Homo sapiens: one gene and its partner. The protein of the gene in region 1 purifies or fractionates together with the protein of each later gene. This does not show direct contact. Each region holds a gene or a part of one and is shown in the gene's direction. Other genes may lie near its edges.

The links. Proteins that work in one complex are often made in the same cells at the same time.
Region 2: the proteins of RTN1 (region 1) and TMEM70 purify together in Homo sapiens (affinity purification with mass spectrometry; 2 studies listed by BioGRID and IntAct, with this or other methods). This does not show direct contact.

Annotation. Positions count from the first base shown.
Region 1 is NC_000014.9:59,741,760-59,748,780, reverse strand, and holds part of RTN1 (reticulon-1), read left to right. Parts: intron 1-2,299; coding exon 2,300-3,073; intron 3,074-7,021. UniProt on the Homo sapiens protein: Inhibits amyloid precursor protein processing, probably by blocking BACE1 activity.
Region 2 is NC_000008.11:73,972,036-73,979,196, forward strand, and holds the start of TMEM70 (transmembrane protein 70, mitochondrial), read left to right. Parts: upstream 1-4,159; 5' UTR 4,160-4,246; coding exon 4,247-4,456; intron 4,457-6,720; coding exon 6,721-6,826; coding exon of another isoform or gene 6,827-6,834; exon of another isoform or gene 6,835-6,840; intron 6,841-7,043; exon of another isoform or gene 7,044-7,136; intron 7,137-7,161. UniProt on the Homo sapiens protein: Scaffold protein that participates in the c-ring assembly of mitochondrial ATP synthase (F(1)F(0) ATP synthase or complex V) by facilitating the membrane insertion and oligomer formation of the subunit c/ATP5MC1 through its interaction.

The DNA of each region.
Region 1 (7,021 bases):
TTATTTTGCAAATATGTATTGAGTACCTACTATTCATCAGGCCCTGTTTTAGGTGCCTATATTGGTGAGCAAAATAGTCAGAAATTCCTGCCCTTATGGAGCTTACCATGCTGTGTGTGTGAGCTCACCTAGCAAGAGGAGACAATCGATGCATAAAACATATGTTAACTATACAGTATTTAAGAAGGAGATAAGCAATACAGGAAAAAGAAAAATCAGAGAAGGGTAGCGAATAGGATTGCCAGGAGTGGGGAGGGGAAGGCAAGTTGCAATTTGAGATGGAGGGTTAGGGTCATTTTTCTTAAGACGGCGACATTTGAGCAAAGACTTGGGGGTGAGAGAATTAGGTATATAGGTATCTAGGAGAAGAGAGTTCCAAGAAAAGGAAACAGCTAGTGCAAAGCCGCTGAGGTAGGAAAGTGCTAGAACAGGGAAGAGGCTTTGTGCTTTTCCACTGCCCGTAGAGAAACAATAGCTTGTGCAACCAAAAAGAAAGCTAGGAAAAGACAAAAGTTAAGTTCGTTTGTAATAATGCTGAGTAAATATTCCCGGAAAAAAAAAAAAAAAAAACCTCACAGACTGACTTAATCGGGGCAAAGCGCATTAGGGGAGGTTTCTTGGCTTCCAGGTTACTTGGGTGTGAATCCTGGTTCTACCACTTACTGCCTGTAAGATCTTAGGTGAGTTATTTAACCCCTTTGTTTCTCAGTTTCCTCATCTGTAAAATGAGCCTAACAATATTGCCAACCTTCTAGGATTGCTTTGATTATGAAATGAGTTGATATTAATGAAAAGTTTAGAACAATGCCTGACACATAGCAAGCACTCGCATGTTAGCTATTGACCTGTTACTGCCACTGTTTTGATGACTTTTATATGAGTTATTGCTCTAGTCTATTCTTCAGGTGTGTCTTAAGACCTTTGATATTGTACGTACTGTGTGTGTGTTTGTGTATATGTGTGTGTGTAATGTGTTTGTATGTAGATGTAGAGAGTGTGGGACTTAATTTGTACAATTGTAAAAATTAGATTAAAAATCCCACTGCTTAGCATATAGTGACGCCTCAATGTATGCTCTGGTATGGTTGGTTTTCATACCTTCTGGTAGAATTTTACAGCAAAGTAAAACAGTGGAGGGTTTTCCTTTTATGCTCACTATTTTTTTGTTTTTTTTGAGATGGAGTTTTGCTCTTGTTGCCCAGGCTGGAGTGCAATGGCGCAATCTCAGCTTACCGCAACCTCCTCCTGGGTTCAAGCAATTCTCCTGCATCAGCCTCCTGAGTAGCTGGGATTACAGGCATGCGCCAACACGCCTGGCTAATTTTGTATTTTTAGTAGAGACGGAGTTTCTCCATGTTGTCAGGCTGGTCTACGAACTCCCGACCTCAGGAGATCCGCCTGCCTCGGCCTCCCAAAGTGCTGGAATTACAGGCGTGAGCCACTGCACCTGGCCTATGCCCACTATTAATGAATATAAAAAATGGCTGGTGTATTAGTAGAATTAGAGCCTGGTGAAAATATTCTATAGACTCAAACTTGGAAACCTGTCTTACCCTTAGCACCACCAGTGGAATGAAGGAATTGCCAGTGGGTGACTTTGAATATCACTGGATGGCAATGAATGGGCAGTAGAGGAGTAAAAGAGGAGGAAAACAAAACAAGAGGGAAAACTGATGAAATAAACAGGGAAGCACACCATTAGGGTGATATGACATTGGAATGAGGCCCAAAGCTAGGAGGTCCTTTCTCTGCGGACCTTGAAAAAGAGACTGGATGGATCAGTAGTCCATGAATGAAAGGACTGGACAGGTGGGTTCTTTGAGGCTCCTCCCAGCCATTGAATTTCCAAGAGCAGCTCCTGTACCCAGTCAGCTATCCTATTGTTGCAGTTACAATCCTGAGGTAGCCTAATTTCCACCTCTACTTAAAGAGCTGTTAATACTTTAGATACAAAGAGGGTTTCTTTTTAATAATACTAAGATCAAGTCACTGTGTGTTGAGGTGGTAGACGTTGAAAATAAATTTCCTAGTCTTATAGGATCTGTCCCCAACTTATCTGGTCCTGGCAGTTTATGTGAGCCTCTGGGGTCTGTTACTGGAAAAATACCACAAGTATGGACTATCGGGGAGATTAGGAAATTTAACATGCTGGTGCTCTGAGGGAGCTCCGAGGGAACTCCGAGGGCTTAAGGAGAAAGGATGTCATGTCTTCACCAGGCAGGGGTGGGTGGTGGGTTAGACAAGAGAGAGAGCTGACGCCAAGCACCCACTCACTGTCTGCTGCTGCTTTGATTCATAGGTGTGGCAGGTGTTTCCAGTGCCATGGACCACACCTTCTCAACAACATCAAAAGATGGGGAAGGATCGTGTTACACATCTCTCATTTCTGACATCTGCTATCCACCTCAGGAGGATTCTACATATTTTACTGGAATTCTTCAGAAGGAAAATGGCCACGTCACCATTTCAGAGAGCCCTGAGGAGCTGGGTACACCCGGCCCCTCCTTACCAGATGTGCCTGGGATAGAGTCTCGTGGCTTATTTAGTTCTGATTCTGGAATAGAGATGACTCCTGCAGAGTCCACGGAAGTGAACAAGATCTTAGCAGACCCTCTGGACCAGATGAAAGCAGAGGCCTATAAATACATTGACATAACCAGACCCGAGGAGGTGAAGCACCAAGAACAACATCACCCCGAGCTGGAAGATAAAGACTTGGACTTTAAGAATAAAGACACTGACATCTCAATTAAACCTGAAGGAGTCCGTGAACCTGACAAACCAGCTCCTGTGGAGGGAAAAATCATCAAGGACCATTTATTGGAAGAATCCACATTTGCTCCATACATAGATGATCTCTCTGAAGAACAGCGCAGGGCTCCTCAGATCACCACCCCTGTCAAAATCACACTGACGGAAATAGAACCTTCTGTTGAAACCACTACCCAAGAGAAGACCCCTGAGAAGCAAGATATATGTCTAAAGCCAAGTCCTGACACAGTCCCCACTGTCACTGTCTCGGAGCCTGAAGACGACAGCCCAGGATCTATCACCCCTCCATCTTCTGGAACAGGTAAAGGCCCTGTTATTGCTTGACTTAGGAAAACCCAGCATATGGAAATCTCAATCCCTAAAACAAATATTAAGGAATGACAATTTTCATTCAACATACTTTACTATCTGGACCCCTTAAATTTCATTTAGTTTAACTAATTTAATTAATATTCAAAGTTTTCAATTTGTTGCTGATTGTACAAAGGTTGCAATCTGGGATTTCTCTTAAAGTCCTATCAGGTTTTCTTTGTAAAATTTTTTTTTTCTTTATTTGAGGGGAGATGTTAGAATGACATACTGGAAACATTAAAATCCTCATGCAGCCCTACTGTCCAGAGCAGAGAATTCAGTACTGCCTGCTTCTCAGTTAGCTTTCGGCTAGGATCTGGGTTGTCTTAGTCTGTTTTGTGTTGCTTATAACAGAATACCTGACACAGGGTAATGTATAAGAAACAAAATTTATTTCTTAACAGTTCTGAAAGCTGGGAAGTCCCAGGTCAAAGGGGCGCATCTGGTAAAAGCTTTCTGGCTTGCTAGTGGGGACTCTCTGAAGGGTCCCAAGTGGGTACAGGGTATAATATGGTGAGGGGGCTGAACATGCTAACATGCTATGCTCAAGTCTCTCTTATTCTTCATATAAAGCCACAAGTCACATTTCCATGATAATCCATTAATCCGTTAACTCTTTAATCCATTAATCCATGAGTGGGATAATCCACTCATGAAGGCAGAGCCTTCATCGTTCAATATTTCGTAGTCCATAGCCTCTCAAAGGCTCCACCTCTCAATACTGCCACATTGGGTATTAAGATTAAACATGAGTTTTGGAAGGGACATTCAAACTATAGCACAGGTCTCTTGGAGACATTATGAGGAGAGCACACTGGCTGTTCTCTGTAGACTGCCTGAAGCACCTTGGCCGGGGCATTTAACATTCCTGTCCCTAGCTCTAAGTCTGTACACTTAAAGGGAAGGAAAAGGTGGACTTCTGGATCTTTTAGGGATGGCACAGACAGGAAGAGGAAACCTAAGCAAAGCAAACTCCTCCCTTCCCCTTTCAATCTCAACACTGTCATTTTATATCTCTAGTTTATTGAAGTTCTGCATATAATTTTATTTTTGAAACCAAAAGATGTACTTCATTAAAATTTTTAAAGTTTAGACTTCATTAGGCTATGGTCTTTTTTAACTTGAACATTCTCTTTCTGTGACTGAAGGCAGGATACTAAACAGCACTCATGCGTATTCTGTCAAACACAAAGGGAGCCTCTTATATCCCTGGCTAAAGGCCAGAGAGGCAGCAGGAAACTCCTCACCCCACCCTGTGCCACTCTCTTCTCTCCAGCCTTTGCATCTCCACCTCTCTCAAATGTCCATGAGGCATCGAGATGAAGAGGACAGTGAGAGGTCCTCAAACCTTCCCCTGCCCCTGGTGACTGGCATTCTACCATATCCCAAAGAGCTTTGGTATGCACCTCAGGTGAAAGAGCTTCTAGTAAACTCTGAAAATGGAAGCAAAGCCTGTAGAGGAGGAGCGATTGCTCTAAACCCTGATGGTATAGTACAAATCCAAGTGTTGGAATAGAACAGAATTAATGAAAGTTCCTCCTATCTTCTTTCCCTATAGATTTTAGCATTAATTCCTTCTCCCCAAAGTTCCTTCAGACTCATTCAACCATAGAACTCCAAGGGTCTTAAAGATTCACTGCGCCAGGTCCCTGATTTTCAAATTTACTCATTCACGCAACAAACACTTTCTACATACTTTCTTTTGGTTGGGTACTCTATGAGGCACGACTGATGGGGAATTAACGAAAAATAAAAAACAAACAAAAACCAGTCCCTGCCTCCAGGGGACCAGACGACCAAGGAAGCAGTCCCAATCCAGTGTGCTTGGTGTCCTGAGAAAGGGAATTGTACGGTGCTGACGAGCCCTGGAGTCCAGCAGCTCCCCAGGTGAACTGGGACCACAGGTGACTCTCAGAGGAACAGGGGAAACAAAGAGGTGAAGGGAAGGGTGCCCTTCCAGTCTGAGGAGCTGCATGGACATGGAGTTGTGAGGGCCCAGTGAACTTCACTTAAGATGTAAATTGAGATTTGGGTAGTAATGACAAATCAGAAAACCAAGGCTCCAGGTGGATTAGATACGTCTTGCCCCTGCCTAAAACATGAGGTCAGAACATATCCGAGTTTCCAAGCTTCCTTGTACTCTTTCTGGCAATGCATAGTAAAACTCTTTTATTATTTCCTGCCGTAAAGATACTTGGTGTTCTGAAGATGTAAGTTAATATAGTCAAGCTGTGTTTTACAGAGCTCCCGGGTTGTCCAGTAGTCAGTCCACAAGAACTTCAGCCAGTCCTCAGGAATAGTGAAATGCCCTAGCAAGTATAGGTCTACTTACACGGCACATGCTTCATGTAAAAATTACAGTTTGCAAAGACTTGACAAAGGGTCCATTAATTTTTAGGGAATTTCCATTTTTAAGTAGCCATGGCCCAATTGGGTTCTGGAGAAGGTTCAAGAGAAAACAAAGGCAGATCTGGCTCACATGATATTGGAGTTTTACGATGTTGGGTTGCCCACTTGACAGTATGGGGTTAGGACAATGATTGTCTCTGCAGCTGCAATCAAATAAACATTCTAAGCAAGGCATATTCAGGAAAGAGAAAATGGCCCATTACACATTCTCTCCTATGTTCAGCTCCTCTCTCCATATACATCCCACATCAAAATACCAGAGTCATATGACAACAGATAAGAATGAAATTAACAGGAAGAATCAGCTTCTCATTGAAGCCTTTCTCCCTGCCCTTTTTATCCTGCGAGGTTTCTGACCCCCTTCCCATCTTCTTATGACCCCTGGCACCATGTGACACTGTGCCCATAGACAGTAGAGGATATGGACTTTATTACATCTGTTGAGTCTTGGGTCACTCTGCCATTTCCAGTGACAACAGATTGAAAACAAAAATTGAGAACTGCACATAATTCTACATAGAAACTGAGGAAAAAGAAAGCATGTTAAGCAAAAAAGGGTCCAGTTTATCATTGTTTAATAAATAAGGAAATCATCAAATCTGGAGAATAACTGAAGAGAAATTCTAATTTGGGTTAGCTTTAGCCACAGATGCTGATGTTTAAGCAAGGTGTCTAATATATTTATATTTCTCCCAATTCCAATAGATTATTCCATTTTGTAACGTTCTCCAACATACTTACCTATTTTTACTACATAATATACACTGAGGTGGAGAGGTGAGAATTGTTATAGCTGAAATACTGGAAGTCTCTTTTAAGCCAAGATCAGTCATGAAAAAAGTGAAGCAATTTAGGAAAACATAATAAATGCCCTGATGCCCCAGACATTGACCAGGAGCACCATGTTGTTTCTGACACAAACACCAAGAGGGATATTATGATGGTCCTGGGTGTTATGTGAGCTATTAGCCTCAAAAAGGACAATAATCAGGAAGTCATCCTTAAAACACCCCAGTTTCCCTCAAGAAGAAATGAGCAATTAAAAGTAAATCAACTTAAATTTGAAAACTACCATTGCTATTTCCTTGCATTGATGGGATCTATGATTCTCCTACCCATTTTTAAAATTCATTCTTTTGTTCAAAAAATATTTAGAGTGACTTCTATACATCAGACATGCACTGGCCACTGAGACCTTGTAGTAAATAAGATGTACAAGGTCCCTGCCCTTGCACAGCTTACCTGCTAGTCAGAGGAAACAGGCAATAAAAAACAAACCCATAAATAAACAGTGTAATTTTATAGTGTGAGCACTAGAAAGAGTGATAGAGGGTTGGGTGTGAGGGGTCCAAGGACTGCCCCTCTGAGGAGATGACACATGAACTGAAATCTGAATGAGCAGAAGGAGCCCACAGTTCAGAGAGAAGCTAGGAGGGACCTCAGGTGTGGGGGAATAGCAAATGCACAGGGCCTGAGTCTGTATTATATG
Region 2 (7,161 bases), on another chromosome or scaffold:
CCTTACCCGGAGCTCCGTTTCCGCCCCAGCCCGAGACTCACTCGTCAGTCCCGCAGCCACCGCAGCCGGGTCCCCGCGTACTGCCACAGCCCCTATCCCAGGGCCGCCCCCCCACCCCCAGCTGCCTGCTCCGGTGGGTTCCGGGGCAGTCGAAAGAATTACTTCCGCTGGGTCAGAGCCGCTTTCGGCGACGCGCGGGAGATCCGTACCTGGTGAGGCGAGGACGCAGAGTGTGTCGCTCACTTCCGTCTGGAGGTAGGGCGTAGCGCCCTACTCTTTTCCCCTATAGTAGGCCAGCCTATGAACGCAACCGGCAAATTTCGACCAATCCGAGTCTAGCTCTTCTGGATTCCCAGCATGCAGCGCAGACCCTGATCCAATTGCTGTAAAGACGCATCCTTAGAGAGGCTCTCGGGAGTCCGAGAGAGCACTGCATTCTGGGATTTGTAGTTTCTCTGGTGGATACCGTCGGCGTTGGGACCGAGGCAGCCCTGCATCCTGGGACTTGTAGTTTCTCGCACTGCGTGTTAAGATTTTGGTGGTTACAGAGACTGTCCGTACCTCTCATTTAGGGTTACGCCTGGAGGTGGGAGACTGCTGAGGAAAGATTGAAACGTGGGAGGGCGGTTTCTTTGCTAACGAGATCGTACTCTTTATGAAGCAGCATCTGTCCCTGGTGAAAAGTTGCTGTGCGTGCTGAAGAGCCAGCACAGCAACGACTAGCGCAATCGGCTGGCCTCATTTCCTCTCTTCCCGGTAGAATTCAATGTTAACTGAAAACTAACCACGTCCCCCACTCCACCCGCGAGGGTCCTGCCTTTGCCTCTGGGTTAGCTCAGCTGTCCTGGATCCGGAGCTCACGCACAGAAAATCCAGGCGCCTGCCAAACCGTTACTCAGTTTTTGGGAACTTCTTTCTCATTCCACGCCCCGCTTCCCACCCCCCCGCGTTTCCTATGGTAAGATATACAGGCACCTTTCCAGGAAGGCTGAAACAGCTAAATAAAGTTCACCTTCTACTGTTTTCCAGGAGTGTGGCATGAAGAGAATGTATGTAGGGCCAAGACAACATTACAAGGTGCTCAACGAGGCACTTTGTGTGCTCAAAAAATAGATAACAGGCTATCTAGAGTTTGTTGAACTGAGGACTTGCCAGAAAGGCTTTTTTTTTGTTTAATTTAGTTAATTTGGTAGATAAAAGACATTGGTTTTTTATAATTAGTTGCAATAATCAAGGAGATTGTCTTGGATAAATTTTTTAAAGCCTTTACAGAAATCAGAACAAAGATTTTTTGGCTGTAATGGTAGCTCGAAGTAGAGTTTGGTGGGGAGGACAGGCATGGAGGTGCAGATGAGGAGGCTGTAGGCCCCTTTTCTTTTCTCTTCTCTTTTCTTTCCTTCTTTTTTATTGAGAGGGTGTCTCGCTCTGTCTCCCAGGCTGGCGTGCAGTGGCGCAATCTCGGCTCACTGCAGCCTCCACCTCCCAGGCCCAAGCAATTCTCGTGCCTCAGCCCCCTGAGTAGCTGGGATTACGGGTGTGCTCCACCACGCCGGGCGACTTTTTTCTGTGTTTTTAGTGAAGACGGGGTTTCACCATGTTGGCCAGGCTGGTCTCAAACTCCTGACCACAAGTGATCCGCCCACCTTGGCCTCCCAAAGTGCTGGGATTACAGCCGTGAGCCACTGCGCGCGGCCTAAAAACATCCTTAAAATCATTCTAAAATCCCATTAGTTTATATTTAACAAATGTCTCTAACTTACTGGAACTGGAAAATCCATCTAACATAAATAACAATTCTATGTAAATCTATGGTACAGAGTTTTCAGACTATAATCTGATTTTATCTATTTAGAAATTTTGAGAAATAGATCAAACAAAAGTTTTTATTTTCATTTACTTACAGTATTTGTAGGGGGAACAGCTTTACAGAAGATAAAAAATTTGAGTTCTCTTAATATAGTTAAGAAAAACATTTTTATGTGAAAATTTTAAATATATCAGCAAAATAATAGAGTGAATATTGATTGTGAGTGAATTACCCTAAACAGAAGAGTTTTTAAAATGTAAATAGGCCAGGTGTGGTAGCTCAGGTTCTGTGACACTTTGGGAGGCCCAGGCGGGAGGATCCCTTGATTCCAGGAGCTCAAGACCAGCCTGGGCAACAAAAGGAAACCCTGTATCCACTAAAAATACAAAAATTAGCTGGGCATGGTGACGTGGCCTGTAGTCCCAGGTACTTGGGAGGCTGAAGTGAGAGGAACACTTGAGCCTGGGAGGTCAAGGCTGCAGTGAGCTATGATGGTGCCACTGCACTCCAGCCTGGGCGACAGAGCAAGACCCTGTCTCAAAAACAAAATAAAAGGTGGGCACAGTGGCTCACCCTTGTAATTCCAGCACTTTGGGAGGCTGAGGTGGGCGGATAGCTTGAGCCTCAGGAGTTTGAGACCAACCTGGGCTATATGGTGAAACTCCATCTCTACTATTAAAACAAATATTAAAATAAAAATAAACAAAATGTAAGTAGAAGCTAACTTTTTATAAAATAAAGTTATCCATATAGAGGTATTATCATTATCTCCTTCTGAATACTCCCCCCAATAGACAGTATTTGGAGTTGCCAACATGATCATATTCTATTGATTTATTTTTATTTTTATTTTTGAGACAGGGTCTAGCTGTGTCACTCAGTGCAGTGGTGCAATCAGGGCTCACTGCAGCCTCAACCTCTTGGGCTCAAGTGATCCTTCCACCTCAGCCTCCCAAGTAGCTGGGACTACAGGCAGGTGCCACCATGCCCAGCTAATTTAAAAATTTTTTGTAGAGACAGGGTCTCACTTTGTTGCCCAGGCTGGTCTCAAACTCCTGGAATCAAGTGATCCTCTCACCTGGGCCTCCACGTAGTATTGGAATTGCAGGCGTGAGCTCCCGCCCCTGGCCACACATTATTTTAGACTATGAATTTGTTCCTCTCCGGTGCAAATAACATGTCAAATCAAAAACATGTATAGTTCTGCAGTGGTAAACAAAAGTGTGTTTCTATTACTAAGATGCTCATCCTTCAAGACTGAGCTAAATGTGAAGCCAGTCTGAAGACATTCTGAGGCAAAATTAATCATGTTCTTCTTTGTACTTCTGTGGCATTTGTTTGTTCTTTTTTTTGAGACACGGTGTCACTTTGTGGTCCAGGCTGGAGTGCAGTAGTGTGGTCTTGGCTCACTGAAGCCTCGACTTTGGGCTCAAGCAATCCTACCATGTCAGCCTCCTGGGTAGCTGGGACCACAGGCACACACTTACCATGTGTGGCTTATTTTTGTTTTAGGTTTTTTTTTTTTTTTTTTTTTTGTAGAGACGGGGTCTCCCTGTATTGCTCAGGCTGGTCTCAAACTCCTGGCCTCAAGAGATCTTCCTGCCTAAACCTCCCAAAGCGCTGGGATTACAGGTGTAAGCCACCACGGCCAGCCACATTTTGTATATTGCGGTGTCTCAATTGTATTACATTATATTCTAGCCAATTTTCAGGTATTTTCCTCCACTGTTTAAGCACTGTGGATTCCCAGTTTAATCTAGTATTTTGTATCCTCTGCTCCTAGCTCAGTCCTGGCAATAGATTCAGTACCTCTTTAACAAGTAATGAATCAATGTGTATATGGATGTGAATGATTTCCGAAGACAAATCTGGTAACACCTATCAATATTACATGAACAATTCCATTTATTTTCCTCCAACCCGATGATTCAATTAAGTTATCACTCATTTTTGTTCAAATCGTATATTCTTTCTTCTGTGCCAACAGGCTAGAATCATTTTCCGCAAAGGAAACAGTTTTTAGTGATGTCGTCCACGAGAAAAAAAAATATTTAACCCTGGCTTCTGGGCATTGTCATTCTCGTACAGCCCTCTGCCCCTCCACACTGTTATAAAGAAGGTAAAATTCTAGGAAGGAGGAGCCGCTGAGCCAAGGACAGAGCGGCGGGCTCCCAGCTCAGCTGGCGGATAACGCGCGCGGCCGGGAAGGCGGCAGGCGGGCGGCAGGCGGGCGGCAGGCGGGCGGCAGGCGGGCGGCAGGCGGGCGGCAGGCGGGCGGCAGGCGGGCGGCAGATTCTGCGCACGCGCAGGCAGCCCAGCTGCCAGTCAGGCGTCCCGGGCTGGGCATGCGCCACTTGTGCGGCAGTCGGGTGGGAAGCCGTGTCTCGCAGTCGTGGACTCGTGCAGCTGGGGCGTCCGCAGCCGCTCGTCACCCGCGTGATGCTGTTTCTGGCGTTGGGCAGCCCGTGGGCGGTCGAACTGCCTCTCTGCGGAAGGAGGACTGCATTGTGTGCGGCCGCCGCGCTCCGAGGTCCCCGGGCCTCTGTCTCCCGGGCGTCCTCCAGCAGCGGGCCTTCGGGGCCGGTAGCCGGCTGGAGTACGGGGCCTTCGGGAGCCGCGCGCCTTCTCCGGCGTCCGGGTCGAGCGCAGGTAGGGCGTCCGAGGTCTGGTGTCCCAAGTGAGGCGGGGAGGGCGGGCGTCGTGTCGGGCCTGGGGAGCCCCAGCGGCTCTTCGCGACCTCTCCCAGGTGTCCGTGGCTGGAGCGCGGGAGGAGCCCCCTCTGCGGGGCTTGCAGAAGTAGCAGGCCGAGGGCCCCGGGGTCCTCAGCCTCCGCGAGTCCAGGAGAACGGCTGGAAAGTGCTTACTTTTATGGTAGTTCCAAATCCAGAGGGTTTGTGGTGACAACTATATGTAGTTCCTTTTCTGCCCTTGAGTAGAAGCTTAGAAGTGTTAATTTGCAAAAAATTGGATGCAGCACCTGGAAATAGAACCGAAAGAGCCAGGTTAACCTGACTTTGAGCTTGTTCTACTTTTATGAGGTGGCTGTACTTTTAAGAATTACTTTGGTCCCTGGGAAAAGGGGGATGCAGATGTTAATTCTTTTATTTTGATCTGAATAAATTGTCTTCTAATTCTACTCTGTAAAATATCAGGATTGGCAAACCTGGTTAAAACTTGGAAGAAATGCTTAAAATGGAAATTGGAATCTAATTACATTTCAGCATTGAGGAATTAGGCATGCCTTTTACATTTTGAAGTGTATACACTGTGAAACTCATTTTCAGATGTATGGGGAACGCTTCTGTTCCCTTGAAATTTGATGTAGGATTTCAAGTAAATTTTATTTCTTTTTTTTTGGAGGTGAAGTCTCGCTCTGTCACCCTGGTTGGAGTGCAGTGACGTGATCTTGGCTCACTGCAACCTCCGCCTTCCGGGTTCAAGCGATTCTCCTGCCTCAGCCTCCCCAGTAGTTGGGATTACAGGCGCGCTCCACCACACCCCGGCTGATTTTTTTTTTGTATTTTTAGTAGAGACGGGGTTTCACCGTGTTGGCCAGGCTCGTCTTAAACTCCTGACCTCAAATCATCCTCCTGCCTCGGCCTGTCAAAGGGTTGGGATTACAGGCGTGAGCCGCTGTGCCCAGCCAAATTTTATTTCTTGTCAAGAAATAAGAGGACCAGGGGATACACGGTATTTACAAGGTCTTTAGAGAAAGATTTGATCTCTTTAATACTATCATATAAATATTTTAGCAGTATTTGTAAAAGGCCTGGACTTTAAATATAATGTGAGTTTGCGGAGTATTTTACTTAAATTATTTTAGTAAAATTAAATTTTATTTCTTAGAGATGGGGTCTTGCCATGTTGCCCAGGCTGGCCTTAAACTCCTGGGCTCAAGTGATCCACCTCAGCCTCCCCAGTAGCTGGGGCTATAGACGTGTTCCATTACACCAGCTAAATGTATTTATTTTTTGAAAAGGTGTTGCATTTAAATAGAATGGAAATGATGTCGTCATTAACAGTGGAGTAGAAGAAACTGTTACTATTTTTACTTGTTCAAGGTCACACTAGACCTAGAAACCTGAGAGCTGGGATGCTAAGCTAACAAACTCCAGCTCTGCAGTTTTCTACTTGTGACTAGAATTAAGGCAAGCCATTCTGTCAGCCAATTTATTTCTTTAACTCTGTAGATTATTTGGGAGAATTCCTTATGTCACCTCATGTGACAAGTTCTTTTCATTACAATTTTATTTTATTTTTTTGAGACGGAGTCGTGCTCTGTTGCCCAGGTTGGAGTACAGTGGTGTGATCTCGGACCACTGCAATCTCCGCCTCCCAGGTTCAAGCGATTCTTCTGCCTCAGCCTCCGGAGTAGCTGGATTACAGGCGCCAGACACCATGCCCGGCTAATTGTTTGCATTTTTAGTAGAGACGGGGTTTCACCATGTTGGCCAGGCTGGTCTTGAACTCCTGACCTCAAGTGATCCGCCCCCCTCGGCCTCCCAAAGTGCTGGGATTACAGGCATGAGCCACTGCACCTGCATTACAATTTTAAAAATAAACTTAAGCTGGGCATGGTGGCTCATGCCTGTAATCCCAGCACTTTGGGAGGCCAAGGTGGCAGATCACTTGAGGTCAAGAGTTCAAGACCAGTCTGGCCAACATGGTGAAACCCCGTCTCTAATAAAAATACAGAAATTAGCCGGGTGTGGTGGTGGGCACCTGTAATCCCAGCTACTCAGGAGACTGAGGCAGGAGAATTGCTTGAACCCGGGAAGCAGAGGTTGCAATGGTGAGCTGAGATCGCACCACTGCCCTCCAGTCTGGGAGACAGAGCAAGACTCTGTCTCAAAAAAAAAAACTTAAAAAAATTTAAGAAGGTTAGTTGACCATAATGATCCCTGTTTCAATAGATCCCTGTTTATTGGGAAGGATATGTTCGATTCTTAAATACGCCATCTGACAAATCAGAAGATGGAAGGCTAATTTATACTGGCAATATGGCCCGAGCAGTGTTTGGTAAGTAATTGGAGGTGGGTGTACTTACTTTGTTTTTTTCTCTTTTAATTGTAAAAATATCCTTACCATATCTTACTTGTTGTTATGGCATCCCTTAATTACAAGACGTAAGGAAAATTAGATTTTCATTTTTTTTTCTTGAGGTGTGTTGATAAGATGTAGAGACCTTTGCATTTTTAGATTTTTATTTGAGACAGAGTCTCACTCTGTTGTCCAGGCTGGAGTGCAGTGGCATGATCTTGGTTCACCATACTCTTCGCCTCCCATGTTCAAGCGATTCTCCTGGCTCAGCCTCCTGCTGGGATTACAGGTATGCACCACCACACTTGGCCAAT